Linked DNA regions of Homo sapiens. The protein of the gene in region 1 interacts with the protein of each later gene in a pairwise test. Each region holds a gene or a part of one and is shown on either strand. Other genes may lie near its edges.

Region 1 (11,844 bases):
CTATTTTATCATGTTTTATATTCTTCATGATAGGCATCACTATATGATATGGAATATTCTTAAGTGTTTACTTGTTTGTTTTTTTGTCTTCACCTTCTAGAATGTAAGTTTGCAAGGGTAGGGACTTTGTCTTGTTTACCACTGTTTCTTCAGTACCTGGCATATAATGGGCAGTCAATAAATACTTTAAGATTATTAAGCTACCAATACTGTAAATTCTGTTTTTGACAAGGAGAAGCTACTGAAGTAGTATAACCTAGGAAAAAACTTACCTTGAATGGTACATTCCAGTAACTGAAACTTGCAGCAAAAAATCTTAACCATTTTGGGGTTACATACACCATTGAGAATCTTATAAAAGCTATGTATTTTCTTTCTTTCTCTCTCCTTCCTCCCTCTGTCCCTCCCTCCCTCCTTTCCTCTCTTCCTGGCCCCCTTTCCCTTTCTCTTTCCCTTTCCCTGGGTCTCACTCTGTCACCCAGGCTGGAGTGCAGAGTCATGATCACAGCTCACTGCAGCCTCTACTTCTAGGGCTCAACTGATCCTCCCACCTCAGCCTCCCAAGTAACTGGGACTACAGGCACATGCCACCATGCCTGGCTAATTAAAAAAAATTTTTTTTGTTTTTGGTTGAGATGGGGGTCTCATTGTATTGTCCAGGCTGGTGTCGAACTCGTGGGTTCAAGTGATCCTTCTGCCTCAGCCTTCCAAAGTGCTGGGATTACAGGCTTGAGCAACTGCACTCAGCCTAAAACTGTATGTTCTCTCTAGAAAAAGGTACATACTCTTATTGTACTCAGAATTTCAGTATCAATTCAGAGAATTCTCAGAACCCAGAAATCCCTGCTTTGAAGAAAGGAATAACCCTGAGTATTTGAAAATTCTTAAAAATACATGTTGTTATGTCTTCCATTTTTGCCCATTGATGTGCATGAAACAAGCACAGTTCCCTTTCCACATGAAAGCCTTTAAGATAGTCTTTTAACAAATATTTATGATGTACCATATCACATACTGTGCACATAGTGTATAGACACTATGTATTCCAAGAAAAAATGAGCGAACTCCATGCTTTGAGGCGGCCACAGTTTAGTAAAGGAAAGTAGACATGTCAACAGATAAATGCAAAACAGACATGTTAGCAGATAAATGCAAGAGTGTCAGTCACAGTTACTCAAGTCTGCGCAGGGAACAATGGAGACATGTATGCAATGGTCAGTGTTATTGGGACTTAAGAAGGGTTTCATAAACCAGGTGTGACAGCTCATGCCTGTAATCCCAGCATTTTGAAAGGCTGTGGTGGAAGGATTGCTTGAGCCTGGGAGTTCGAGACCAGCTTGGGCCACATAACAAGACCCCCATCTCTACAAAATAAGTTTGTTTTTTTTCAATTAGCTGGGCATGGTGGTGTGCACCTGTAGCCCCAGCTACTCTGTAGGCTGAGGTGGGAGGATCGTTTGAAGTTTGGAGGTCAAGGCTACAGTGAGGTGTGATTGTGTAACTGCACTGCAGCCTGGGCAACACAGTGAGACTCTGCCAAAAAAAAAAACAAAACAAAACAAAAAAAAAACCCCAAAAAACAGGTTTCATAGAACATAGAGGAGGGAAGTCTTTTTTTTTTTTGATAACAGCTTTCTTGAGATCTAATTTATATATCATACAATTCACCCACTTAAAGTGTACAATTTATTGGGTTTCAGCATATTCAGAGTTGTACAACCATCACTACAACCAATTTTAGAATATTTCTTCAGCCCCCAAAGAAACCCTGTACTTTTTAGCTATTACTCCACAAATCCCCCAGCCCACCTCCAGCCCTAGGCAACCACTCATCTACTTTATGTCTCTATAGATTTGCCTGTTCTGGACATTTGGTATAAATGAAATCATATAATATCTGATCTTTTGTGACTGACGTCTTTTAACTAGCATAATGTTTTCAAGGTTCATCCATGTTGTAGCATGTAGCAGTACTTTTTTTATGGCTGAATAATATTTCATTGTGTGGATATACCACATTTCATTTATTCATTAATCAATTGATGGACATTGAATTTTTGCCTTTTAGCTATTATGAATAATGTTGCTACTGATATCTGTGTACAAATTTTTGTGTAGACTTAATGTTTTCATTTCTCTTGAGTGTATACATTTGGAAAATGTGAGCATTCCAGTGTGGCTGGAACTAAGCGTGGAATTTCTAGGTTGTATGGTTATTACATGTTTAACCTTTTGAGGAACTGCCAGACCATTTTCCAAAGCAGCTGTACCATTTTACATGACCACCAGCAGTGTAAGAGGGCTTCTGGTTTCTTGTCAATACTTGTTTGTTATCTGTCTTCTTGATGATAGCCATCCTAGTAGGAATGAAATGGTATCTCATTGTGATTTTATTTGCATTTCCCTGATGACTAATGACATTGAGCATTTTTTGTGTGTTTATTCACTCTTTGTCTATTTGTATATCTTGTTTTGGAGAAATGTCTATTCAGGTCCTTTTAACCCTCTTTAAAAGTCAGATTACTTGTCTTTTTTTTTTTTTTTTTTTTTTTTTTGAGAGAGACAGGGTCTCACTCTGGTGCACAGGCTGGAATACAGTGGTGCCATCATTGCTCACTGTAGCCCCAAACTCCTGGGCTCAAGTGATTCTCCCACCTTACCCTCCCAGGTAACTAGGACTACAGGTGTGTGCCACCATAGCTGGCTAATTTTTAAATTTTTTGGCAGAAATGAGGCTCTCACTATATTTCCCAGGCTGGTCTTGAACTTCTGGCCTCAAGTGATCCTCCCACCTTGGCCTCCTGAAGCACTGGTATTACAGGTGTAAGCCACCACACTTGGCGTCTTGTCTTTATTGTTGAGTTGTAAGAGTTCTTTGTATATTCTAGGTACAAATCTATTATCAGATATATGATTTGCAAATATTTTCTTCCATTCAGTGGTTGCCTTCACGTTCTTGATGGTGCCCTTTGAATAAGAAAAGTTTTACATTTTCTCTGACAAAGTCCAATTTATCTACTTTTTTCTTTTGTTTCTCCTGCTTTTGGTGTCATATCTGAGACAAATTGCCAAATCCAAGGTCATGAAGATTTATGCCTATGTTTTCAAGTTTTATAGTTTTTGCTCCTGCAGTTAAGTCTTTGATCCCTTTGAATTAATTTGTGTATATGGGTAAGGTAGGAGTCCAACTTCATGTGGATATATAGTTGCCCCAGCACCATTTGTTGAAAAGACTCTTCTTTTCTCATTAAATTGTTCTGGCACCCATGTCAAATCAGTTGACTCTAAATGTAAGAGTTTGTTTCTGGACTCTCAATTATATTACATTAATCTGTATACTTATCCTTAGCCAGTACCATGCTGTCTTAATTATTGTAGTTTTCTAAGTTATGAAATCGTGAAATGTGTCCTCAAACTTTGTTCTTCTTTTTCAAGATTGTTTTGCTATTTTGGGTCCTGTGACCTAGCATTTCCATAGGAATTTTGGATCATCACTTTGGTTTCTGCCAAAAAAAAAAAAAAAAATGCCAGTTGGGATTTTGATAGAGTGAACTGAAGCAATTTGGAGAGTACTGCCATCTTACCAATATTAAATCTTTCAATCTATGAACAGAGGATTTCTTTTTTATTTATCTAGGTCTTTAATTTATTTTAAAGGAGATTGTAGTTTTTAGTGTGAAAGTCTTATTTTGTTAAATATATTCATAAGTATTTTATTCTTTTTGATGTTGTTATAAATTTTGTTTTCAGATTGTTCCTTAGTGTATAGACAATTAGTTTTTGTATATTGATACTGTATCTTGTCACCTCGCTGAACTTGTCTGCATATAGAGATAGTTTTACTTTTTTTTTTAATCTGAATGCCTTTTATTTTTATTTTTACTTTTTTTGGCCTAACTGCCCTAGCTGGAACCTTTAGTGCAATGTTGAATAGAAGTGGTAAGAACAAACATCCTTTCTTGTCCTTGATCTTAAGAAGTATGCTTTACTAGCATATGTAATGTTATCTGGGGGCATTTCGTAGATGCCTGTTTTCAGGTTGAGGAAGTTCCCTTGTATTCTTAGTTTGCTGAGTGTTTTTCATTATGAAGGGGTATTGAATTTTATCAAATACTTTTTTTCTATGTCTGTTGAGATGATTATGAGATGATTATGTGAGTTTTGTCCTTTACTGATGTGGCATATTACATTAATTGAAATTTAGATGTTAACCCAGCTTTACCTTCCTTGGCTAAATTGAGGAGGCAGTTCTTAAAGTGTTTTGGGGGGTGTGTGTGTGTGTGTATGTGTGTGTGTGTGTGTGTGTGTGTGTGTGTGTTTAAATAATCCAGATGAAAAAGAAGGGCATTCTAGGTAGAAGAAATACTGAGCAAAGAAACACAGAGGCTTAGGGCCAGGCACGGTGGCTCATGTCTATAATCCCAGCACTTGGGGAGCCCAAGGCAGGCAGATTGCTTGAGGCCAGGAGTTCGAGACCAGCCTGGCCAACACGGAGAAACCCCGTCTCTACTAAAAATATAAAAATTAGCCCAGTCTGATGGTGCACGCCTGTAATTCCAGCTACTTGGGAGGCTGAAGCAGGAGAATTGCTTGAACCTGGGAGTTGGAGGTTGCAGTGAGCTGAGATCCCACCACTGCATTCCAGCCTGGGCGACAGAGTGAGACTCTGTCTCAAAAAAAGAAAAAAAAAAAAAAAAAAAAAAAAAAGAAGAAGCATGGAGCCTTGAAGTATCCTCAGAGTTGTGAGAGAAGACACCAGAGAAGTTGGCACGGGCCAAATTGTGAAGGTTTTTTTCTGTCATTCTTAAGGAGATTGGGTTTTATTCTAAAGGCAGATGAGGCATCATTGAGTGTGTAAGGAGAAGAGAAACATTTAACCTGGTTTTAGAAAGGACACCCTGGCAGCAGTGTAGACACTGCGTTGTGAGGATTTCTTCAGGGAGAAGATTGTTGTAGTCATCCAGTTGAGACATCATGAGCATCACCAAGTCATTGTCATTGGGTTCACCAGTTAGGGTGCTTGTGACAAGTGACAGAAAAGTCAGCTTGACTAAGACAGGGAATTTATTGACTTGTGTAAATGAAAAGACCCTGTGTTAGAAATGTCTTGCAGTATGGTTTGAACCAGAGACTCACAGTTGTCACACTGGGGCTCTAGCTCTTATTTTCTGTGTCCTTTTCACTCTGGGTTCGTTCTCAAGTTGGTTCTGTGCTCTGGCTGCCCTCTCAGGGTGGTAGCAATGGTTGCAACAGTTTCGGACATTACCTCCTCACATTCCATTGCCCGGAGAAAGTGAGTGTCTCATTTATAGCAACAGTTTCGGACATTACCTCCTCACATTCCATTGCCCGGAGAAAGTGAGTGTCTCATTTATAGCAACAGTTTCGGACATTACCTCCTCACATTCCATTGCCCGGAGAAAGTGAGTGTCTCATTTATAGCAACAGTTTCGGACATTACCTCCTCACATTCCATTGCCCGGAGAAAGTGGGAGTGTCTCATTTATATACGTGTGTGTGTAGAGCTGGCCTGGAACTCCTGGCCTCAAGTCATTGTCCCACCTCAGCCTCCTAACGTGCTGGGATTACAGCACTTTGCTGGGCACAGCTCCAGGCCTCTTTTCTTTTAAGTCCTCCATCACTCTCACCTTCCAGCCTCACTCCCAAGATTCTTTCCCAGAAGTTCCAGCAAACATATCCGTTCACGTTAATGGCTTGAATTAAGTTAACTTGTGGTGCTGTGGGTAGAAAGAATATACTGATGAATCCACTCTGGAGTTGAGAGGAGTTCCCAAAGGAAAATATGGATATTAGAGCAAGAGAGGTTATCAATGGATAGATTGGAGGGAAGAGAATAATTTTAAGAGACATTTTAAAATAGAATGGGAAAGTGAGGGAGAGGGAGACATCTGGATTATTCTCAGGTTTAGGTGAAGGGATAGATGTTGATTTCCTTTGCCAAAATAGGAATGGAGGAAAAGTAGATTAAAGGTGTGTGAAAAGAAAATAAAAACTTGGGACCCCAGTTCACTATGCCAAAAGGAAAAAATTAAGCTGAAAGCTGAGTCGTGCAAGAAACTGCCTTTCCTTTTGTTCCTAAGCAGGTAGCTACAGATAAAAAATTAAATATCTCTACAGGTAGCTACTCTATGTTCACCGTATCTTACGTGAAGTGCCGATTTACTGAGCACCAGATGAATACATAATTGACTATTCCTCTACCTGCTCCTTTTCTCTTGCAACATATAGATTACCATACCCTTCTTTCCCCTCCAGCTCACTTTTCCCCTTGAAATATTGAAGCCCTCAAAATCATCTTTGGAGAAAGGCACAGACCTCTCTCCTGGGCGTGTCCTTAACGTTGGCAAAATAAACTTCTAAATTGATTGAGGCCTGTCCCAGATACTTTTTGGTTTACAGGTGTAAGATGATTAATCCAGGAATTGGAAAAGTAGTATTATGTCCCTTTCTTCAGTCTTCTTTCCTGTGTTAACATCCCTAGCTCCCTCATCCGTTCCTGGTATGACCTAGGTGCAAGTGTTTGAACACAGCCCTCTCAGAAGAGGCTCTTAGAACTGCAAATAACAGCATATCTAAGACAGTTCATGAAAGAGCAATCTGTTGTTTCCCTGCACTCTTCTTCTTCTATACTTAATGCTTTCTGGGGATTGCTCTAGTTTTTAGCATTTTCCTTGCTGACTTTGCTGTATATTAGAATTCTGAGCCTTTTTTTCTTCTTTTTAATAGGAGCTGCTCATCTAGGTTTTGTTCATTTTCTACTGTTCACTTGATGTTTCGGAATGAAATGTAGGAATTTGTAGTTTTCCTTGTTGCATTTTATTTGTTTAAATTTGGCCAAGAATTCTAGCTCTTGAAATTTTTTCAGAGCATTCAATGTTTCATTCAATGTATCTGCTTACCATTTCTTAGCTGTGTGCCATTCTTGATTTTTAAAAAACTTTTTGTTAAAGACATTTTCAAACATAAGCAAAAGTTGAGAGAGTAGTAAAATGAATCCATATCATCCTGCTTCAGCAGCCATCAATACATGGTCAGTCTTGTGTCATGGGTATCCCCACCCACTTTTCCCCCCATTCACTGGATTATTTTGAAGCAAATCCTAGACATTGGATCATTTTTCATCCTTAAATGCTTCAGTATGCATCTCTAAAAACAGATTCTTATTAAAATGTAGCCACAATACCATTGTCACACCTAAAAAGTCAATACTTCCTTGATGTCATTAAATATCTAGTTGGTGTTCAAATTTTTCCCACCATGTTATAATTTTTCTTTTTTTCTTTCTTTTTTTACAATTTTACCTTTGATTATGATCAGCATGTTTTCTCTTTTTGTTTGTTTTTTCTCAGGCTGGAGTGTAGTGGCAGGATCTGAGTTCACTGCAACCTCTGCCTCCCAAGTTCAAGCAATTGTCCTGCCTCATCCTCCTGAGAAGCTGGGATTACAGGCATCCACCACCACGCCTGGCTAATTTTTTTTGTATTTTTAGTAGAGACGGAGTTTCACCATGTTGGCCAGGCTGGTATCGAACCCTTGACCTCAGATGATCTGCCTGCCTTGGCCTCCCAGAGTGCTGGAGTTACAGACATGAGCCACCATGCCCAGCCTCAGCATGTTTTCTTGATAGGTCAAATTATTTTTTTAAATGTCTTAGTCATTTAAAACTGCTTTTAGAGTCCCACCACTGTATTCATGGAAACGTTTTGTTTAGGGTCATTCAACCAGTTGGTTATTTGGTTGCTCTATTCCATCTTACTCTGTCACCCTGGTTTGCCTCCTTCCTCCTTCCCCACTTCAGTCTATTCTCAATATAGCTGCCAGATAGTATTATGTTGAAGCTTAAGTCAACTCACATCTCTCCCCTCCTCAAAACTCTACAGTGGCTTCCTGGCTTAGATGAAAAGATAGTCTATACATGACCCAAAAGGCCCTATGTAATTCTCTTCCCCATTTGCTTCTACTTTTCTATCTGTCTCACTTTGTTGTGGCCACACTGGCTTCCTCCTCACTGTTCCTTGAATATGCCAAGCATGTTCCCACTTCAGTGCCTTTGCATTTGCTGTTTCCCTTGTTTGAAATGCTCTTCTTTTGGATATCCATGTGCCTTTCCCTTCGTCTTCATGTTTTCTCTCAAACTGCATTTCCTGATGCCTTCTCTGGCCATTCCAGCTAAAATCTTAACTTCCAACACGGTCCTACCCCTTCTCCCTGTCTTATTTTTTCTCCTTAGTATTTATCATTATCTTGTTTATTGTCTCTTTTCCTACTTAGAAAGGAGGCTCTGTGGCCGAGCGCGGTGGCTCACGCCTGTAATCCCAGCACTTTGGGAGGCCAAGGCGGGTGGATCACAAGGTCAGGATTTCAAGACCAGCCTGGCCAACATGGTGAAACGCCGTCTCTACTAAAAATACAAAAATTCTCTGGGCATGGTGGCAGATGCCTGTAATCCCAGCTATTCGGGAGGCTGAGGCAGAGAATTGCTTGAACCCAGGAGGCGGAGGTTGCAGTGAGCTGAGATCGTGCCACTGAAATGCAGCCTGGGTGACAGAGACTCCATCTCAAAATAAAACAAAAAACAAACAAAAAACTTCTTAACTCTGGCTTCCTAGAGTTTGTGCTACACGATTCCTACTTTGTTGTCAGAAACACTAAGATCTCATTCTCCTGAGGTTCTCCTTTCATTTCATCAGAGCTTCTTCTTTGATCAGAGTAGCAGTTCTTCTGCTCTCCCTGTGTACCTGTGGAACATAAAAATGTCAGCACACTTGGTCAAGAACTTGTCAGTTGTTCCATTGTCAGCTGAATGAGAGTTTGAATAGGTTGCAGGGTAGTTGAAGTACTCCAAGATGACAGTGTGCCACTCTGTGTTGGAGGTGGCTTCAAGAGAGTCCTATCTACTACTTCTACTTGGCTGGGAACCTTTGGTGTTCCCACAGTAACACTGTATCTGGGCATCTTTCCTGCTGACCCTGCCTGAATGCTTATAAATAGGGTTCCTTAGTAGCCCCTCTCCAGTGGCCCTGTTCCTGTGGAATAGCACAGACCCTTTGTCACGATGTTCTCCCTAAGTAAGTTGTGTCCCACTGAGTCTTAATCTCTCTGAGATGTGAAAATATACAGATACATGTATATGTGTATATAAATATACACATACAAACATATACACATATACATGTATGACATACATATACATACATAGTTCTGTGTTATCTTAAACTAGCTTCTTATGTGTTGGTATGTAAGTGCCTGAAGACAAATATATTATTTTGGTTGGTTACCATTTATTTTCCCTAATGAAGCATCAGAGATCTACTCTGAAGGAATGTTTGAAGGACAGAGATTAGGAAATCATTTTGATTTCAGAGGGTCATTTTCCTGTTCATGTATTATGGAAATGAACAGAAAACAACAGACAATTTGAGAGCCCATGAATGCGTGTAAATTAGGCATTTTTTCAAGTTTAGAAACGTACAGGTAAGTGGGTATGGAATACCTTGCTTGATCAGTCATCCTAATTGCCAGTTTCTATTCTAGAAACTATAAAATTGAAAACTGGCAGGATAATGAAGTAAAAAACTATTTTTAGCCCTACAAATGACTGGGCAGGATCTTGAGATTCTAATAAAGGCTAACACTCCCAGTATAATTCATCCAAATCAGGTCAGCAAAGATTGTAGTAGGCAAGATCCAGAGCCTGCCCTGGGAACCCAAACAAATAAAACACTAGGCCTTTATTCAAGAAGTTCTTAGTTTGTCTTCCAGCCGGAGACCACTAGGAACACACCTGTAGTTGAACAAGTTGAGTGTATTACTCATTGCAGCAAGGGAGAATGCACACCATGGGGAATTGTGGGGCATCTCAATAAGGCACTGTTAGAAAAAGTCATTATAGGATTTGGGTTTGTGTTAGGTGATCTGGAGGATGGTTTAAGGATGTGGTACTTTACTCTGAATTAGATGCTTTCAGGAAGTAAGGCAAATTCTAGGACTGGTATCTTAACAGTTTATCTAAAGGGAGGGCCAACTAGAGAAAGGCTAAAGCTGTAATTGATAAAGCAGCCCCATCGTTCACATTACTCAGCACTGGGGGATATTAGGTATTTAGTGGCTTGGACAGTGTTCATGTTTTGTCTGTGTTCAGACAGATTACTGAGTGGTCTTGTTTTTTGTCTTGATCCGTCATGATCACAGAATGGCCTTGTCTAATGTTGGTGTTCTGAAATAGCTTATGTGTAACAGGAGAACACCACAACTTATCTGTGAGTACCAAGCCAGCTCATAGCAGTATTAATGCCTAGTTGATAATACCAGGCCAACTTTTAGATGTTAGAGGCTGCTTTTCTAGTTCTCAGATATGATATACACCAAATAAAATTGGATAGAGATGGTGTTTAGTGGAAAATGTTACCTGTTTTTGTTTCCCGGTTCATTTAAGTACAGGCTATAAGACACATTAATAAAACTCTTGATTAAGGCCAAGTGTGGTAAGTGCAATTAAAGAGGCTCAAGCAGTGTGTTTTACAGGCATGGGGAATAGCATGAGAAAATGCTTCGGGGGCATGGGGGCAGTATCTGGCCTGGGCCTTGGAGGATTGGCTGGATTTAGATATGTGGAGTTGGAGAGGAAAGCAAAGCCACTGGAGGATAAGCATAGGCTCAGAAGCAAGAAGGTGAAAGTCAGGTTCAAAGCATGGTGAGAACCCTAGTTTGACTAAATGAGTGGTATGTAATGGGAAAGTAGTGTGAAGAGCACTTTTGGGTTAGATTATGGAATTCAGTTGTTTAGGAATTCAGTTTGTGGGGAGGGAAAATCAGAATTTGTTAAATACCTACTATATGTGCTAGGTGCTTTGTATATATGATATTATTTAATCTGTAATTCTTGTAAACTCTGGAAAGTAGATATCATGCCCATTTTACAGATGATGAAAATGAGCCCTAGAAAGATTAATTTAACCTCCACTGAAATAGTGGGAGGCACAGCCATAATCTTAACCAGTAACTGACTGAAAAGGTGGCACTCATTCCACTTCACTCTGCTACCTCCATTCTGCTGTAATACAGCCTCTTGTCATCAGTGGAAACTATTAGAAGCTTTTGATCAGAGAACTGGCAAGACCAGTTAGAATTGTGCTTTAGGAAGATTATTCTGGTAACAAAACAGTGGTAATTGATGTGTATTGAGTGTGTGGATCGGGCCCTGTGCTAAGCAACTTAGACACACAATGATCTCTTTTAGTAATATATAGGATGGATTGAGAATGGAGAGGTTGATAAAAGATGAAAGAAATCTGATTAAATTAGCAGAAAATGTGAAAGCAGTAGAGAACAAAGCAGAATCAGGTAGAAGGGAAATGTAACAAGATAGGGCCCTTGGAGGAGACCGGTGAGGAAGAAACAGCTATTGTCTTGGCTTCTACTTCAAGTAATGCTGAATCAAATATGGCTTCTACAGCTTCCTCAATATTTAGGGAAAAGCTTGGCTATCTTAAGCAACTGGCCCCCTTAAGACCTTTCTTGAACCGCTGTTTCTATTTTTTATTAAAATAGAAACATGTCCAGTTCTTTATAGATTTATTTGCCCCAAGAATGAAATGCTGCAGATGAGTTAATGTTGCTTTCAGAAAACTCTTTTGTTAACAGTGCTGAAGTTTCTGTTTTTGTTTTTAGCAATAGGTATGGTTATTAACAAAGGAAAGTAGAGCTTCACTTTGTAAAATCCATTTTCTTTTCTTTTTTTTTGAAACGGAGTCTCACTGTCACCTACGCTGGAGTGCAGTGGCGCGATTTTGGCTCACTGCAACCTCCGCCTCCCGGGTTCAA
Region 2 (8,196 bases), on another chromosome or scaffold:
AAAAAAGGCCTCCTGTTTGGACATGGGGGTGGGGAGGACACCTCTAGTGACACTTCCGGGTCATCCCGCCACAGAGGCTGCATTAACCTCAGTTGCCCTCAGTGCCTTGCTCTCCCAGACAACATCAGGCCTCAGTCTAGGTGCCCTGTCTCCAGAATGCCCCTCTAGCCAGGGGCACGGCATTTAGGGATGGGATACCTGTCTAGCACCTGACAAATTCCAGAGTCACAGTGGCCTCTATAAGATGGGCTCTGAGCCGCCAGCACACCCCACCCATCCTGCCCATCCTGCCCATCCCGCCCATCCCATGTTCCTTTGCAATCTGCCAGGTCCCTTCCTGGCTCACAAATGGGAAGTAAGACAGTCTCTCCAGATCTTCCAGACGTGGTGGCCCGCCCTCCCCAAAGCCACCAAAGGTGCCAAGCCTACGCAGTGGAATGTCTGGGCCGCTGTGCCCCTGTCCTCTGCAGGGAGTGGCCAGGGTTTGGCCAGCTGCCGGGGCCCCTGGCTGCCTCCTGATGCCCAAGCCTCTCCATCTGCAGGCACCCTTCGACGGCTCCCGCCTGGTCTTCCCCCCTGTGCCAGCCTCCCTGGTGATCGGCGTCTTCTACTTGTGCATGCAGCTCATCCTGCCCGAGGCAGTAGGGGGCACTGTGTTTGCGGGGGGCCTCCTGGGCTACGTCCTCTATGACATGACCCATTACTACCTGCACTTTGGCTCGCCGCACAAGGGCTCCTACCTGTACAGCCTGAAGGCCCACCACGTCAAGCACCACTTTGCACATCAGAAGTCAGGTGAGGATGGGCCTGTGCTTCCCAGCCCCCTATGTGTGTTCATTGATTTATTTGCCAACTACCATCGAGCTCCTGGGAACGGCAAGGCACTGTTCCATGTACGGGGCATATACAGAGGGTTCCCTCTACTCTCTTCCCTGGTGCAGACAGCTGTGCAGAGACAGGCAAGGACATCAATAAATGGCAAAGATTTCAAACTGTGATAAATGCCATAAAGAAAATAAAGGGGCTGGGTGTGGTGGCTCACACCTGTAATCCCAGCCGAGGGGATTGGGAAGCCGAGGCAGGTAGATCACTTGAGGTCAGGAGTTTGGGACCAGCCTGGCCAACATGGTGAAACCTGTCTCCACTAGAAATACAAAAATTAGCGGGGTGTGGTTGTGCCCACCTATAATCTCAGCTACTTGGGAGGCTGAGGCATGAGAATAGCTTGAATCCAGGAGGCAGAAGCTACAGTGAGCTAAGATTGCACCACTGCACTCCAGCCTGGGCAACAGAGCAAGGCTCTGTCTATAAAAAAAAAAAAAAAAAGAAGAAGAAGAAGAAAGTAAAGCAAGGTGATGGAATATCACATAGGTGGGGGAGGGTCCAGCGATTTCCACTGACATATTATGTGGGCCACATATGTGATTTTAAATTTTCTAGTGGCCACACTAAGACATGAAAATAAACAGATGAAAAGAATTTTAATAACATTTACTTAACATAAGCAAATTATTATTTCAACATGTAATCAACATTAAAAAATCATTAATGGCTGAGCGCAGTGGCTCAGGCCTATAATCCCAGCACTATAGGAGGCGGAGGCAGGGGATTGCTTGAAGCCAGGAGTTCCAGACCAGTCTGGGAAACATAGCAAGACCTTGTCTCTACATAAAAAAGTTTTAATTATCCATGTGTGGTGATATGCACCTGTAATCTCAGCTACCTAGAAGGCTGAGGCAAGAGGATCATTTGAGCCCAGGAGTTTGAGGCAGCAATGAGCTATGATCATGCCACTGCACCCCAGCCTGGGTGACAGAGTGAGACCCTTTTTGTAAAGTCTCTTTAAAAAAAAATAATTAGCAACTCTTATACTAAGTCTTTGAAATCTAAGGTGTATTTTGTACTTACAGCACATCTCAATTCAGATACTAAAGTTTCATTAGAAATACTAGATCCATATCTAGATTTTATAAAATTTGCAAACAGTAGTTCACATAGGTAAGTTGCTCCAAACATGCTTAAACATTTTCCGGTAACACACTTGAGGAGGCCGAGACGGGCAGATCACCTGAGGTCAGGAGTTCAAGACCAGCCTGGCCAACATGTTGAAACCCCCTCTCTACTAAAAACACAAAAAATTAGCTGGATATGGTGGTGCGCGCCTGTAATCCCAGCTACTCAGGAGGCTGAGGAAGGAGAATCTCTTGGACCCAGGAGGCGGAGCTTGCAGTGAGCCAAGATCACACCAGTGCACTCCAGCCTGAGCAACAAGAACGAAACTCCATCTCAAAAAAAAAAAAAAAAAAATTCCAGTAACTCAATCAAGCATCAGTTTTTACATTGACATGTTAATTCATCAGAATTAAATGAAGTTAGAAATTCAGTTTCTCTGGAGCTCTAGCCACATTTCTAGTGCTCAGTAGCCATGTGTGGCTAAGGGCTAGTTGGACAGCAAAGAGATTAAATGGTCCAGGTGTCATTGCAGAGGTGCCATTAGAGCTAAGACCCTAATGAAGAGAAATCAGCATCTGGCGTCCCAAGAGCGACTGGTGCAAAGCCCTGAGGCAGGAATGAACTTGGGCCCCAAGGAAGGGGAAGGAGATGGAGGTGGGGGGTGGGAGGGGGCCACGTAGCCTAGAAACGAAGGCCAGATAAGGAATTAGGGTTTATTCCAGCTTCATGCTGGGGACAATAAAAGACACAGGTTCCCCACCCTTGACTTCTGCCAGAATGGCCTCGGGAGTTGGGAAGGCCAAGGGGACAGATATTGACATTGTCTCCACCTCTTATCCCTACCCTGGCACCCTTCCCAAGCCAGCGCACGCCTGCTCCTTCAATGCCTCATCTTCTCCCCGTTTGTCTCCCTCTCTAGGATTTGGTATCAGCACTAAATTGTGGGATTACTGTTTCCACACCCTCACTCCAGAGAAACCCCACCTGAAGACGCAGTGACAACTCCCACCCCCTCCGTCCTGCCCTCAGCCCGGCCCTGGCCCCTTCCCGACCCCCACCCGCCATTCAGACCCCATTAAGAAGGTTGGCTTGGCCAGGCAGGATGGGCTGTGTCCGGCCCTGCAGCCTAGTGGAAGGTGCTGAGGGGGCCCTGAGGCAGGACCGCCCTCCTGACCCCTGGTAGGAGGGTCACATCCACTTGGTGGCCAGGTGGCCCTTGGTGACCCACTTCTTCCTGGAGCGTCCCTGCCTAGAGCTCAGCCCACAGGACTGCTTCAGGCCGTGGCCACAGGTAGCAGCCGCAAGGGGAAATGAAGAAAACTGAGCCCTCGTGGCCACCTGTGTCACCCTTGTGCCTTAGCCTCATGGGCTGCCTAGGAGCTGCCTGCACGGCACAGCTCGCTTTCACAGTCAGAAGTGGGTCTGTGGGATCTGTGGTCCCTGTCCTCCCTGCTGTCCCTTCTGGGGAGGCTTTGGTGGCTCTGAGGTGGACAAAGAGCTCTCGCAAGAAGAGACAGCGTGATGCCTCCCACAGTCCACCCCAGACCCTGGGGCAGCCCCTCTGGCCCTGCCAGCTGCCTGCGTCGTTGGGCCCAGGGTGGCTGGCAGGAGTCCCAGCTGCTTGCTTTAGGACCTGGCAGCTTTTCTTGCCGTCCCTCCCCTGCCTCCAGAATCACAGCCCTTCTCCCCAAGGGAGGCTGAGGAGGCTTCTCCACCAGTGGCAGCCCCACCCCGTCCCTGGCCATTCTTGGCCTCCACCCCGCTCAGGCCCCTACTCGGGCGCTCCCAGAAGGAGCCACCTCTCAGTGCCTCACCTCCCCCTGCCTCCCAGCCTCCGCAGATGAGGTTCCTGCCCCTTCCTCCTCGTAACCAAAACCCTCACTGCTCCCAGGACGGTCTTATTTATAAACCAGATACATGTTCTTAGTCTGGTCCCAGACCAAGGAGCTGGTCAGACGGCCCTTTCTAATCCTACATGTTGAGCTTATGTAAAAAATGTTGTTTCCTCCTGTTTTTGGTTCCTTTCTTACCCACAAACCATTACTACTTGAAACTTAAAAAACTCGCCAAGTGTAAAGGCTAAAGAGAAGCAGTTTGACGGACCTTGTGATTTGTACTGTTTGCTGCGGAGCTATTTAAAGATTTTGGAATAAATATACAAAACTACGGTTGTGAAATAAAAACTTAAATTGTATATTTTGAAAAATAAAACACTGAAAAGAAACCAACAAAAATGAGTTGTTCATCAGACTCCCTCGTGGTTGGGAAGGGGCAGTGGTGTGGGGAGGGATAGAGGGGCAGAGGATTGGTCCCCAGGGAGGGAGATTCTAGCCCTGACCAGGGTGGGTAGAATTGCTGGGGCATGGTGATGATTAAAAGCTGACCAACTCTCAGCTGGGCGCGATGGTGCATGCCTGTAATCCCAAGATTTTGGGAGGCCAAGGTGGGAGGATCGCTTGAGGCCAGATGTTCAAGACGAACCTGCCCAAAATAGCAAAACTCCATCTCTAAAAATAAAAGAAAACAAGACAAAAGAAAACAAAACAAAAGGAGAAAGCTGACTGACTCTTATTCTCTCACTCAGCTTTATTCTGTTTCTAAATTCTCTGCAGACAGCATCTCCTCTTATTGCCTGCACCTGGGATGCATTGTGCCCACAAACCACTTTGATCCGCCAATGGGGAGGGATCTCTTCTGGAGTTTATCTAACCCCAACTGAGCTTCCAGTCGACTTTCCTAAAACAGAGGGAGAAAGGCTCCAGCAACAAATGCCCATAGTGGGAACTAGAACCTCAAGCAGCTCAGTCTCGGTGAAACTGTTGCTTGTCTTTCTCTGCTGCCCTATCGGAACCACCTAGGAAGCTGTCGAAGTGCAGCTCCAGGGCCTCGCACTCAGGGTCTAGTTCAGTAGGTCCAGGGGGGTAGGCCCTGGACTCACCTGTCTGAGGACACGGAAGCGGAAGCAAGCTGATGTTGGGGAGCCTCGGAGGGAGCCCAGAACTCTGCTGTGTCTCCCTGCTCTGGCAGTCATAGGGGCAGCTTTATGCCTGCAGCTCCCAGCCCGAAGATAAGTAGGACCCGTCGGAGCCACCCATCACTCGAGTCCCTGAAGCCTGTCACCGGAACCCAGCCCGTCCAAGCAGCAGAACTCATAACCTTCATTTACTGATGGAGCTGAGCAGCTCACCCTAGACCATCACACCCAGGGGGAGGGAGGCAGAGGAAGAACACAGGAGGAGCTCCGCAAGTGTAAACACACATGGCCACAGCAGGAGAAAAAGCCTAAGGTGAGCAAGATTTAGCAAAAAAAAAAAAAAAATTGAAAATTTTCTTTAAGAAGAGTGAAACAGGCCGGGCGCAGTGGCTCACACCTGTAATCCTAGCATTTGGGAGGCCGAGGCAGGCGGATCACTTGAGGTCAGTAGTTCGAGACCAGCCTGCCCAACATGGTGAAACCCCATCTCTACTAAAAATGCAAAAATTAGCTGGGGGGCGTGGTGGCATGCACCTGTAATCCCAGCTACTCAGGAGGCTGAGGCAGGAGAATTGCTTGAACCTGGGAGGTGGAGGCTGCAGTGAACTGAGATTGTGCCACTGCACTCCAGCCTGGGCAACAGAGCAAGACTCCATCTCAAAACAAAACAAAACAAAACAAACAAACAAACAGTGAAACAGACGGGACATGGAAGCTTATGCCTATAATCCCAACACTTTAGGAGGCCAAGGCAGCCAGATCGCTTTAGGTCAGGAATTTGAGACCAGCCTGGGCAACACAGTGAGACCCCATCTCTACAAAAAATAAAGAAAATTACCTGAGTGTGGTGGTGCACACCTGTAGTCCCAGCTACTTGGGAGGCTGAGGTGGGAGGATCACTTGAGCCCAGGAGGTTGCGGCTGCAGTGAGCCGTGATCACACCACTGCATTCCAGCCTGGGCAACAGAGTGAGACCCTGTCTCAAAAAAAAAAAAAAAAAAAAAAAAAAAAAAAGGAAGTAAAACAAAACTAATAAGAAAGGCCAAAAAATAAAGTGAGTTTCTAGCATGGTAATGAGAAGATTTAGAAAAAAAGTGACAACACGAAACCAAGCCCACCTATTAATGAAAAGTCCAATTGGTGAAAATCTGACAGATTCTCCCAGAGCTCCCCATTGCACCGCTGTAACTGTCCAGTGGGGTTGGGAGTATCCACAAGGCCTTTTGGAGAGAGAGCAAGTCCCACCTCACAGGGACTTGAGAGTGCAGAAGTAATTGCCTGCATTTTCTTTCTTTTTTTTTTTTTAGACGGAGTCTCGCTCTGTCGCCCAGGCTGGAGTGCAGTGGCGCGATCTCGGCTCACTGCAACCTCCGCCTCCCGGGTTCACGCCATTCTCCCACCTCAGCCTCCCAAGTAACTGGGACTACAGGTGCGCGCCACCACACCTGATAATTTTTGTATTTTTAGTAGAGATGGAGTTTCACCATGTTGCACAGGCTGGTCTCAAACTCCTGTGCTCAGGCAGTCCTCCTACCTCAGCCTCCCAAAGTGCTGGGATTACAGGAGTGAGCCACCGCACCCGGCCATATTGCCTGCGTTTTCACAGCAGGGCAAAATACAGGAAGGCCACGAGGCCTGCAATCCCCAAGCAGTTAGTGCTCACGGAGCAGCCCCCACCTCAGTGAGCATCTAGGGGAGCTGGAGGATTTTGCCATCAAGTGTAAGAGTCAAAGATTAGATGTTAGAGCAAGCACAGGATATTATCAAAATGCCAACACATCTGGCCTGATGGGAAAAGCCTAGACCTGTGACGTGGGATTGTGTTTATTCCTGCAGTGGGAGAGACACTAAACCAAAAAAGTTTTATGTTTGCTCAGGGAGGTAGCTATTGATTTATTTATAGAGAGAGGTTCTCACTCTGTTGCCCACGCTAGGGTGCAGTGGCGCGATCATAGCTTACTGCAGTCTTGACCTCCCAGACTCAAGAGATCCTCCTACATCAGCCTCCCAAACAGCTGGGACCGCAGGCATGTGCCATCGTGCCCAGCTAATTTTTTAATTTTTCTAAGTAGAGACAGGGTCTCTCTATGTTACTCAGACTGATCTCGAACTCCTGGCCTCAAGCAATCCCCCCAGCTCAGCCTCCCATAGTGCTGGGATTACAGGCATGAGCCACAACACCCAGCCAAGAGGGCCATTTAAATTCTGATCAGCATAAAGTAAATCTGCAGATTGACTGACCCTCAGTGGCCCTACAAATTTGCCTCGCCTGATTCTCCAGGGATGACCCAGCTTCCATGGTCAAGAACAGACCAAAAAATAGCCATCATATTTATTTCTGGTATTGTGTTTGTATTTCCAGACATGCTGTCTTTGGGAGTTCCTTAGTTGATCTGAAGAACAGCCCTCTTAATTCTGCTCTGTTCCACTCCCCCGTTGGCTCTGACCTCTGATCTCTGCCTTTGAACTTTGTGTGATTTTTTATTGTGCCCAGCACAATGACCAACTTGTAACAGAGCCCAATAAATGCTTGTCTTGTCTGCATCAGATCTCAGACGGTAAGAATAACTGGGCCTTGCCTCTCCACCTGTTCCCGGCCTCTGCTGCCCTCTGGTGGCAGCATGCAGCCCTACTCCATTATTACTGCCCTCGCGGGGACTGTTTTGGAAGCAGGTATCTGTGATTTCAAAATTCTAGCCTTTCCCAATTTACCCGTTCTGTTGACTTACATTCTTGACTCATCTGCCATTTTTGAGAGGAAGTTGGAAATATGTATATGAATAGTTCTAACTTTCAAAAAAGCCATAATGGTTGCAAAATTTCAACTGGAGTTTTCTTTACAGTTAGGTGTTTTGCCCAAAGACCACACCAGGCTCCAATGAATAAATGTTATCTATAAAGAATGCCACAAGATGAATGTAAAATTTGGAAAATTCCAGGACTCTCATCTCATAAGTGTCTGTCCCATCTCAGACACCTATAGCGGAGAGGAAGAAATTTAAAAGAAGAAAAAAATTTTTGTTCTGGCAAAAGCAGTGGGGTTATATCTTCTTTTAGGTTCCCTAAAAATGGGATTACAGGCGTGGTGGCTCTTGCCTGTAATCCTAGCACTTTGGGAGGCCGAGACAGGCAGATCTCCTGAGGTTGGGAGTTTGAGACCAGCCTGACCAACATGGAGAAACCCCGTCTCTACTAAAAATACAAAATTAGCCGGGCGTGGTGGCCGATGCCTGTAATCCCAGCTACTTGGGAGGCTGAGGCAGGAGAAT
Region 3 (11,844 bases), on another chromosome or scaffold:
GTTACAAATGTATGTGAGTTGTCTCAAATGCTACCTTTTACTGCTATAATTTAAGTTCCTTACTCCATCAAGTGGTCTTTAAAAATTATTTCCTATTTCTCTTCTATCTTATAATTCAGAGAGCTAAGGTTTTCAGTCAATGTTAATTTTCTTTGAAGGATTTTCAGAGGGTAGTATTACCACATACAGACCCCTGAAATTATTATTTTCGAGTAAGGCTGATTCTTTTTCTTTGTAGCCTAGAAGAAAAGAGATCTATGTAATCGCAGTGTCAAAATGTCAAAAGACTGAGATAGGTTGAAAAAACGAAGAAGAAAAGAAAAGAAAACACAAAAAACCTTAAAGGCATTCGTGCAGTCCTCAGCCTTACAAATCTTTGGCTCACATAAAATACTTGTGACATGCTATAATTAACTAGTTACTCCTCTCAGAATGAATAATAATGCAATTATTTGCCAAAAGCAGTGAAGGGATAGTTTCTGTTTTCAAAAACGTGTGCTTTTCATTTCTGCAGAAAGAAAAACCCTTGATTAATTTACATAAGTTGGTAAAGTGACCTGCAGTTTCACCATTACATTATATGATAATTGCTACCTTTTTTCTTTTTCTTTTTTAATCTTCAAAACGTATTTTTAATTATTTATTTAGAGACGGGGTCTCACTATTTTGCCCAGGTTGCTCTCAAATTCCTGACCTCAAGTGATCTTTCTGCCTCAGCCTCCTGAGTGGCTGGGACTACAGGCATACACCACTGAACCTGGCTCTTCTGTCACCTTTTTATCAGAGCCTTATGTTTTTCAGTGGTTTAATGTAGCAATAAACTGACAAGTTGCTATCATGTTCAAATTATATTGGTGCCTGAAACTGTACCCAAATACCACAAATGAGAAGTAGTAGCCTGCCTGGTGAAAACATTTTCTTGCCCCAGTTGGACTTTGATGCCATCAAGATTACTAACTGTTTGTTTCCTGTTTCCTTTGTCTGTGGAAACACAAATAAAAGGAGGACAGTGAGCCTTAGTTCTTCAGGAACCCCCTCTCCTTTGGAGACCCCACATCTGCCAAGTAGCACAAAGTTATCTCTCCTAGGTGTTAATATATAGCACAATGAATATTTTCAACTCTTTCAACACCATCTGCCATTCTCAGTAATTTATTCAACAACCATTTATTGAAGATGTTTGTAATGCACTGTACTAGGTACCAGGATGTCAAAGGTAAGTAAAACACCTTGCCCTTGAGAAGGTTGCAGAAAAGTAGAGGTATAAACAAGTAAACAGGTGCATTACCAATGCAGTAAATGCACCATGGAGGTGAGTGTGAGCCCCCCCCCCACACACACACACAAATTTTTTCACTCATATAAACACACAAAACCACCTCTACCCCATGAATGTAAACTTCCCCAAATTCCTCTTTGAAAGTTTTGAAGCAGACACCTGGAAAAAAATTAATGCTAAAACTCTCTAATTTTGTAATTTCAGTAGAGTTCATTGAGCTATACATTTGTGTGTTTGTGTGTATGTGTATTTGCGTGTAAATATTAGTTTTCATGTGGATCTTTATATAGCATTTTATTTAAGGATAAAATATTTTGAGCAACTGATGCTTTAGATAGTCAGGTTAATCTAATGCCCATAAAATTAGTTACTAATTCTAAAACCAGGTTTTAATTTGCAATGTCTTAAAACTAACATTCACTGATATATCCCAGTGATGCACAAAAAGTCTGGATTGCTTGTTTGAGAAGACAAGGACCAAGAGTCAATATGATTTAAATTCATAAAATCATGACATATTCCAAGAGTAGACATAGCCTTGGTTTTCAAATCCTATTTACTCAAAGGATTCCTTTAATCAGAGAGTGATAGGAATTTGGGTCTGTGATAGGAGTTTGGGTCTGTCTTTCTTTGTACTTTCAGTATGTAGAACAGGGCAGGCTCTGACATCAGACTGCCTAAATTTGAATTTAGGCTCTTCGATTTTCAAGCTGTGAGACTTCTCCAAGTCTCAATTTTCTTATCTGTAAGATGGGCATAGTAATAGTAACTTTTAGAATAGCAACCTTTCTTTAAGAATGTAAAATTGTTAGTGTATTCATTCATTTCATTTAGCTATCCAACATGTAGTTATTGAAAGTTTCATGTGTGCAAGATATTGGGCGGGTTGGGGATTGCAAAGATAATTCAATCACTGCAAATAGAGATCAAGATGGACTTAGAGTTTCAGACCATGGTCTTGGAATCCTGCATGTTTTTCTGACTGAATAAGCTTAATAGACATATATACATGGAATATAGTAAATAATGATTATGTAATCAGAGTTTATTGGTCTTTTGGAAACATAGAAATGGTAGGTCCTTGGTAATCCAGTCACAACATTTCCTTTTCCCCAAGCTTCATCGTTTTTGTGTTTTGTTTTGTTTTGTTTTTGAAACAGAGTCCCACTCTGTTGCCCAGGCTGGAGTGTAGTGGTGGGATCTCAGCTCACCGCAACCTCCGCCTCCCCCGTTCAAGTGATTCTCCTGCCTCAGCCTCCTGAGTAGCTGGGATTACAGGTGCCCAACAGCACATCTGACTACTTTTTGTATTTTTAGTAGAGTCAGCCTTTCACCGTGTCGGCCAGGCTGGTCTCCAACTGCTGAACTCAGGTGATCCGCCCACCTTGGCCTCCCAGGGTGCTGGGATTACAGGCATGAGACACCACGCCCGGCCAGCTTATTGTTTTCAAGCCATTTTAGCAAATCTTTGAAGTTTCTTCCACTTATTCACAAAAAAAAAAAAAATATTCTCCATAGATTTCCAATTTCCAGTGATTGCTGAGAGTCACAGGAAGTATTTTTAAAATGTACTCTTGCATTTATTTAATATATGCAAGTATATAGAGTAGGGAGCAAAGATGGAAGTTAATGATGAGGATATGCAATTGAGAAAAAGACCAATATAATCCATGCATTCCTGAAGCTTATATCCCAGGGAAACTTTCACCTCAAGGAATGAATCTATGTCCTCCTCTTGGGCTGAGAATAAAAACATCAACCATCTATACCTGTTTCTTAGCCATTCCATGAAAGGCTTTATTTGAGGCAACAAGAGCCAGGAATTTTGAGAGGAAACAAATCTTAAAAGGAGGCCTTGAGCAAGCGATGCTAGGAAAGGAAAGGGGGAAGGATGTCAGCAGCAGAAAAGCTGTGGGACCAAAATCAGATTAGTCAAACTGAAAAATAATAAATAAATAAATAAATAAATACACCAATTGGAGAATCTTGTAAAATATCCCACACAATTGTTCAATTTGGTGTTAAAGCTTAAGTGAATTTTTCAGTGAAACACTGATTCTAACCAGTCCAATTCAATCAAATTTTATCTTTCTGTCTGTATTAGTCTGTTTTCACCCTACTGATAAAGACATACCCAAGACTGGGCAATTTACAAAAGAAAGAGGTTTAATGGACTCACAGTTCCACGTGGGTAGGGAGGCCTCACAATCATGGCAGAAGGTGAAAGGTGTGGCAGCAGACAAGAGAAGAGAGCTTGTGCAGGGAAACTTCCCTTTATAAAACCATCAGATCTCATGAGACTTATTCACTATCATGAGAACAGCAAGGGAAATACCTGCCCCCATGATTCAATTATCTCCCACCAGGTCGCTCCCACAACACATAGGAATTATGGGAGCTACAATTCAAGATGAAATTTAGGTGGGGACACAGACAAACTATATCACCATCTCTATTCCCTTTGCACCATTTTGTCATGCTATCAAATGGGTTTCTGAACTGCCAATTACTTTCTGTCTATATATATATGTGACTTTTTCACTGAAACATTTAGAAATGTACACTGTATATATATATAATCTATTTACAAAACATTTACAAAAACATAAATATTAATAAAAATGTAAAATATATATATAGTGTACATTTCTAAATTTCTTTGGACTTAATTTGGATATACCGTCAAAGCCCTAATATCTTATCTAATTTACCATTTAGGTAGACAAGTGACAGAACATACCTTTCTGTTTTTCAGTTGCTAACAAACAACTTTATAGAAGACCTTGAAGGAGATAATTCCTAGAGTCTAACACAACAACAGTCAGAATCTAAACTGGTTTGAAGGCAAAAGAAACTACCTTTTTAAAAATGCAAATGTCAACCTCCTCACTCCTTTTTTATTTAATACAATGATTAAGGCTTGGCCTACAGAGTCACTTATCCACATCCGCTCTATAAGAACCAGAAGCTCTTTGAACATGTAGGCAGCTCCTGATCTCAGGTTTTCAGATGCCAAGAATCAGCTGAGGTAGCAATGTCATGTTCCAGTAGCTTGTGATCACATGGCAACATCAAAGCTAAGGTAGGAACACCGCTCCTCAATGAGTTAAGTGTTTAGAGATGGTTGCCATCTGTTGTAGCTATTTGTTCCTAAATAGGTAAATGTAAAAATAACCAGGCATTCCTACAGCAATTCTCTTACAAAATAAATAAATAAATAAGTAAGTTCATTAGCACATTTTCTGCCAGCATTTTTAAACAGCAATCTAGGTAATTCTGACACAGATGGTCTAAGGACTACACTCTGAGATGCACTGGTGTGTATACAAAGCCTCTCTCAATCAACAGACTGATCAAGCAGTGATTCCCAGGAATTGAGTCTGGTGCCAGGATGACTACTTAAGAATATAGAATGTTAGAAGCTACCCTAGATTTACTGGAGCCCAGAAATCTGCTTATGAATCTGTATACTTAAAAGTTCTCCAGGAGATTCTAATAACACAGTCTGTGGTATTAGAGAGAGGGGGTTGGGTTTTAGCTTAACAAATCTATGAGTGGGACCTTATTCCACAATTTACTAGTGTCTAACCTTATGTAATGTCTTTGGTCTGTAAAACAGCTGTTGTGAGGATTAAATAAAGCAATACATGTTGAGAGTCTAGCATGTAGTAACCTGCTTGCCATTGTATGCCTAGCTCTCAGTAAAATATACAGAAGTAAAAATGTATGCTTCATGACTTTGAGAAACATATAATCTATTTACAAAAACAACATAAATATTAATAAAAATTTAAAATATGAGTTTATATTCTAAAGCTGTAACATGGTTGTACACATACACCAGAAAACACACAAGACACAATATTCAGAATAATAAAATAGAGAAGTGTAAAGATATAGGAACAATCATATAAAATTTTCTTGAAAATGTTTAATTCTTCTTTAGGTAACCTAATTCTCATTAAATCACTGAATTTTTATTTAGATTATAGAAAAATATTAACATCATGAGTGGCAATCAACTTGTATTTATTATTTTATTATTTAAAATGAGAGGTAGAAAAATAGTAGTGTATATCTCGGAAGGGGTTTCATAGGATATGCTTAAAGGGGCCCAAGACAACCCTGAAATTTTATACAGAAGGGTTGTTTATATGAATATGGATATTTCTGGGGAGAGATCTATAGCTTTCATTTTTCCAAAGGGTTTTGTGGCCCCCCCAAAATGTTAAGGACCATTGAAGATTGGTCCTTTTAGTACATTTTATGTGCGTCCTTATTTATGCCAAAGAAATACGACTCCTGATTGCATGCCAAATAATTTACTTGTTTGCTTTCTCTGAACTGTCCTCTGAGTCAGTTTTCCACAAGCTTTAACCATTCAAATATCCCAAGAAAAGAAGGAAGAGTAAGATTCAATTTAAGAAAACTCTAAAGCAGAGTTTCATGACCTCAGCCTATTCATATTCTGCAGATATCAGCATGGAAATTTATGTACATGTTTTAAAAGTTCCAGGGCAGAAATTAACTGATGATCATTTTTGAGTTTTTCCTTTTATTTTTTATCCATTGCTCAGTTGTTTGAATTATTTTCCATTAGTTCTGTGTTTCTTTTCTTCTCAGTTAGAAAAGTGAAGGAACTTCCCTGGAAGGATACAATTCAATTTTGCCAACTTGCATTTTGTCAACTTAGCAATTCTTTCATTTGTGTTTTATTTATAATGTGGTAACAACACTATTGATGTTACATGTTTTTATTTCTCTCTTTTTTTAGGTGTGTGTGTAATATTGACTGTTCTCAAACCAACTTCAATCCCCTCTGCGCTTCTGATGGGAAATCTTATGATAATGCATGCCAAATCAAAGAAGCATCGTGTCAGAAACAGGAGAAAATTGAAGTCATGTCTTTGGGTCGATGTCAAGGTAATGTTCATACCAAAATTCATTTCAAAGAATGATTTTAGTCTTTGTGCAAAAATGAAAAGTGAAGAAAACTCCTTATTAGGCAGCTATTCCATTTCCAAAATGCAGTGCTTATTTACAATGGATAGTAGAGTCTACTGTAGCATTTGTGTCGATTATAGGATTTTGAGGGGCTCTCAGCAACCGTCCAGATCTGTCTCTATACAATGGAACTGTATTGTCACAATGCCATAAACACAGAAGCCAATATTCACAAGATAGCAGACAATTTTCTTGCAAAGGGAAAAAAGAAACTCAAAAACATTTTTAAAACGAATCTAAGAATTTATTAGACATCCTTGAAACTAAAAGCAAATCACTTCATTTTTATGTATTGATTCAGTACAAATATTTAAAATGCATTTTTAAAAGCAAGAGGTACTAGAATGTTCTATTTTCTTTCTTGTTCAGAAACAAGCATTTTCTTAGGTTTTGTTACTCCTTTGACCAATTTTTCTCAGTTATAATTGTGAATCTTCTTCTTCTCCCAAACTTTAGAAAGCTCTCTTCATTTTATTATTTGCTCTCAGACAGAAATTGACATTGTAAATCTGTCTTAGTATGATGCAGGTTGCTTAGAACTACAGTTGTAAAAATTCCTTAATTGCAATGAAGATATTGTTGGAGGAAATATATAAGTTTGATATTAGATATTTAGGAAGCAGTTAATCAATTTTTATTGTTAATTTTTTAACACAGATAACACAACTACAACTACTAAGTCTGAAGATGGGCATTATGCAAGAACAGATTATGCAGGTACATAATATTTTCTTCTACAAAATGTGAGCTCTTCTATTAAAAGAGAGTCCTGGGAAATGGTTGTTTACTACTTATTCCAAAGTGAAGCTTGCAAGACTTCTAACATGTGCTAGCCTTCTCTTGCTTAGTTCAAGCTTTCATTAGGCAAGAGTAATTTTTTGTTGAAGCAAAGAAGACATACGGTTTTTGCCAGAGTTAAAGCAATTGTCAAAAATGTCACTAAGATATAATTAGCTTGTCTTTACAGTGCAAATAGTACAAATAACAAAACATTTATCAAATTAATAGCATCAATGGAAATGAATGCAATTTCTGGCAATATATTATAATAAATGCAAATGTTCTTGTTTAAATTTTCATAAAAGTCAACAATGAAAAGTTTGCTAGTCTCTAAAAAGCTAGAAAGGACAGCTACAAATAATAATGCAGGTTGTCTTTATTTAGATGCAAAGTTAAAAATGTATGTATAGGTTTTTTTAATAGTAAATTTCTTTAACTTATTTTGAAACTAAAATGTAGTTTCTCAGACATGCAAAATTATAAAGCATTTTATATAAATATAAATCATATTTAACAATTATTTCACTTTGAAGAATGTCTCTAGCTAATCTAACTTTTCTAGAGTGAGAAATAATTCATGGGTATACAACTGAAATTTTAACAGATACTTAAATTTTATAGAAATTTGGGATAAAATATATAAATAGTATATAGGTTGATAATGATATGTGAAGTTTTTTAGGCAGAGCTTTTCATTTAGATATTAAGCAATCATAACTAGATTTATGGTAAATATTCAATCAAAAAGAGTTGTTTCTTGTCTTTTAAAATATATACTACCATCTATTCTTTCTTTCTGAAATTTCATTTTCTTTAACATCAGGATAAATGTGTATGAAATTTAAAAAATTAGTTAATATAGAGATCTGAAATCTCTTAGAATTTGGAAATAAAAAAGATATTTTAAACATTTATATTTTAAACATTTTCCACATTTTATCTTAATGTTTTTCAATATGTAGATGGATTTTTTATGTGCTATAAGACAGAAATTATCATGGACAATTATACATGGAAAAACATTGGTTCTACCAATGTATAGCCATTCCCAAAGCGTCCAGGAGAGAAATTTACAGATGTTCCTTGAAAAGAATAGTTCAGTGATCTGTAAGTTTGGAAGAGCTCATACAGACAAATGGGTCTTCTACCCAGAACTTCTCACAGCTCTTATGTTCATTATAAAATATTTAAGAGACATACATCTTTTATTTATTTATTTTACTTTTTGTTGTGGAGAATTTCAAATAAAGGTAAAATACACAAATGTAGGTTCTATAGCTTACTGAACCCACAAGTACTCATCATTCAAGCCCAGTAACACCAACCCGTGGCTAACCCAGCCCTGTCCTCACCCCTATCCTTTTTCCATACTTTCATAATATGTGGAAGCAAATCCTGAAAATTTTATCATTTCATTCACAAATACTTTAGCATGCATCTTGAAAAAAAATCAACAATTTTTTAACAAAGTTACAATACTGTAATCATACCTAATAAAATTATGAATAGTTCCTTATAGTACACAGCTTTTAACAAAATTGTTTGATAACACATTTTTGTGGCATGTTTTGCAGTATTGTTTCCAAGAATGTACATTGTGATATGCTGATCCACAGAAATATTATCAAAAATAATAAAAGATAATAATGAAAAATAAAAGTCTGAGGCTAATTGTATATATTTTAAATTTTAAATGAAAACAAATTTAAATTGTATATATTTTATAAACAATTATTATATTTTGATGGTATTATAAGCCACTGCTACTAACTGCAATTAAAATACCTTTACTCCTATTTTGCAAACTAATTCATTTGGAAAAATCTTCAAAAATGTAGAATTTATGCATATCTTCTTTAGTGAACCATCCGTCTTTGTACTCATTGAAAAATCAAGCCTCTCCCTGAGAATTTTGTTCCTGAAACAAAGAACTCTTCAAGTTGATCAGTGTCAATATACAAATATATATGCATTTATAAAGTTATTCCAATAAATATCATGAGAGATTCTACTGATCTCTCAAAGTCATTCATATTGCATGTTAACATTTTGCCCATTTCAAAGAGATTTGATAATTGAATTTTTATTCCAAAAAGTATTTATATATGGGTTTGGTTTTTTAAACAGATTATCTCTAATGTTGAGTGTCACTGTTCTTAATTGGCATTTTTTTTTCCTATCTTACTGCTTTATTAGGCATAGGAAGAAAAAAATACATTTTTAATACATGCAAATGAAAACTCTTCTGTCACTCATTGTAGTCCAGGATCTTCTAGTTTGGTGTCAGATTTATCCTGCAAACTCTAAAGAAAAACTTTTAAGATAAAAGTAAATTTTAAAAATACATGTTTGTTGAAATCCAAGTATAAGACAGGAACAAAGATAATGTCAATTGAAGCTTGTAATTCCTAGTTAAACATAGATTGCATACGTCAAGATTCTCAAGAAATTTTAGATATATTTGTCTTCATTAATGGTTTCATTAGAATACAATATACACCCTCTTTAGAAATCATTTAAGTAATAGTCATGTTCCTCAACATTTCCAAGCTTCCAATAGTATTTACAGTTTCCTGAATTTGGGAACACAAACTGTGGAAAAAATTAAAAGGAACCAAATAGAGAGTCTATGTGTCATTGTCCTCTTAATTACTATTTCATATGCTAAAATCTGTCCAAGGAGGGAAAACAGGAACTGTGTGACTCGTATCCCTCAAACTTTGCTGTGTGCTCACAGCTCATTTAATGTCACAGCCACTTCCCTTGTTAGACACACATTCACGGACTCTCCCACCTGAGGGAAGTAAGGATCTAACATACTATCATTTTTGCCTTATATCTAGTTAACACTATAGATTAAAAACCCTTATTTATCCCTCTCAGTTTTTTCTTTGAGCCTACTTTAAGAGCTATTAATACAGGAACACATGTTTCTGATTATAAAAATGGAGATCTTCTTGAAAGAAAGTCTAAATCTTAAAATAAATTAATTGTATCTCATTTTTAATATCAGTTAAAAGAGATCCCAGCAAGGATCAGCAGGAGGTGAATTACCAAAACGTGCAATAAATGCAAACGAAGGGAGCAATGCCTTCAACAAAACTAATATGTGCAGTATACTAGAGTGTGGCATACTTGCTCAGAGATGTGAATTCCATGATCCTCAAAGGCACATAAATGTAGTCAACACTAGGAAACCAAAGAATTTGCTCAATCATCCCTGCCAGTATTACTTTCTGGTTGCATTTGATTTGGATCTCTATTCTGCCCTCTCTCCTTTAATGAGACCCAAGGCATTACAGAGCTTTGAATAAAGGGCTTTGGATCTCTTCATTTCAAAGCCCAGTGACAGGATACTTGTCAGATGAGCTAACCAGGCCATTTAATGTTATTCTCCCTTCATCAATATAAGACTTGGGCTTAGAGTTAGGTCTGTCTCTACACCCACAGAAAGATTCGGGAACACAAATTTTACAAACACACAAAGCTAGGGCTTTCCAGGCTTTTCATTGTCTTAAATTGCTAAAATTAAACTGTCCTTTGGGAAGTTTTTAAATAGCAAATGTTTTACACCTCTTGAAATTTGCAACATTTTCTTTCATATATATGTGTATATATGTGTGTGTGTGTGTCCCTCATGTCTTCTAATGGAAAAGAAAAATGAAGTTCAACTATTTGTTTTTCTTTATCCAGTATATATATGTATATTTTCTGATTGTGTTGTTTTTCTGTCTAAAAGTTTGGTCATGCTTCAAAAAAAAAAAGGCTATATTTTTTCCAGTAAAAATGTACTTAATTTTATAAGTTGTTAGATATTTTATAAAATGAAGTCAGATGATATTGGTTTTAATTATCTAGAAAATAAAATGTTTTTTATTTTATGACATCCTACACCAGTTTTCAGAGTTTGGAGTGTTTTATAATTAAAATACATTTGTATTTTTCTTCCATATTTTTTAAATTGAAATTGTTTAAATAGAAATTGAAAACATAAAATCAGAATTGTTAAAGAAAATACATATACCAGCAACACAGACTATTACAGTTACTGTATTTAGCCCTAAGTTTCTTTGCAACCAATACAAAAGAAGAAATTATGGTTGAATCAATTCATTCAACAAATATTTGCAGTCACCGCAATATGCAAGCCCCTGTCCTGGGGTTTTACAAAGGTGAACAAGTCAACATAGGTATCTGCTAAATGAAACTTAGATTTTTATTGTCTGATAAAAAATAAAAAATAAGTTCAGAGACAAAAGACAAAGTTTCTCTATGCTAAATTATAAAGGAACTATTTAGCATAGATCTTTCTACAAGGCATCAGTGAAAAACATAAAATGAATAAAATCTTCAACAATGATTTTTACAAAATACGCCAAGAGGCTCTCCGTATGGCTGGGAATTTTTAAAATCAATTTTTGACAACATCCTAGAGCATAGAATTAAAATATGTATAACTCAAGGACAGTGTTTCTATGACAGACTAAAGTAATGACTTTCATTTATGGGTATTTCCAATTTTCCAAATTGGAAAAAATACAGAGGAAATAGCTATGAGGAGGAGCATGTTGAGCTTATTTTCCTCATGGATACATAGGTTGAACAGGAACAGGAGTAAAGTTAAGATAAAGACTATGCTGGATTATAGTATGTATGTGGGGAGAAGATATTTCCCCTGGCTGTTCGTGAAAAATGTAAGTCCTGGATTTCATGTCCTCGGAGGGGAGACAGGGCCTCCCTATCTCTGAGTCTAGCTACAGGCCTGCGTCGAGTTCCTGTGT

Evidence for each region.
Region 2: the proteins of RIC3 (region 1) and FA2H interact in binary tests that used the Homo sapiens proteins (3 or more experiments, as listed by UniProt).
Region 3: the proteins of RIC3 (region 1) and TMEFF2 interact in binary tests that used the Homo sapiens proteins (3 or more experiments, as listed by UniProt).

What each region holds. Positions count from the first base shown.
Region 1 is NC_000011.10:8,155,493-8,167,336, reverse strand, and holds part of RIC3 (protein RIC-3 isoform a precursor), read left to right. Parts: intron 1-11,844. UniProt on the Homo sapiens protein: Molecular chaperone which facilitates proper subunit assembly and surface trafficking of alpha-7 (CHRNA7) and alpha-8 (CHRNA8) nicotinic acetylcholine receptors.
Region 2 is NC_000016.10:74,708,946-74,717,141, reverse strand, and holds the end of FA2H (fatty acid 2-hydroxylase), read left to right. Parts: exon of another isoform or gene 1-542; coding exon 543-795; intron 796-2,872; coding exon 2,873-2,952; 3' UTR 2,953-4,173; downstream 4,174-8,196. UniProt on the Homo sapiens protein: Catalyzes the hydroxylation of free fatty acids at the C-2 position to produce 2-hydroxy fatty acids, which are building blocks of sphingolipids and glycosphingolipids common in neural tissue and epidermis.
Region 3 is NC_000002.12:191,993,418-192,005,261, reverse strand, and holds part of TMEFF2 (tomoregulin-2 isoform 1 precursor), read left to right. Parts: intron 1-6,053; coding exon 6,054-6,202; intron 6,203-6,940; coding exon 6,941-7,000; intron 7,001-11,844. UniProt on the Homo sapiens protein: May be a survival factor for hippocampal and mesencephalic neurons. The shedded form up-regulates cancer cell proliferation, probably by promoting ERK1/2 phosphorylation.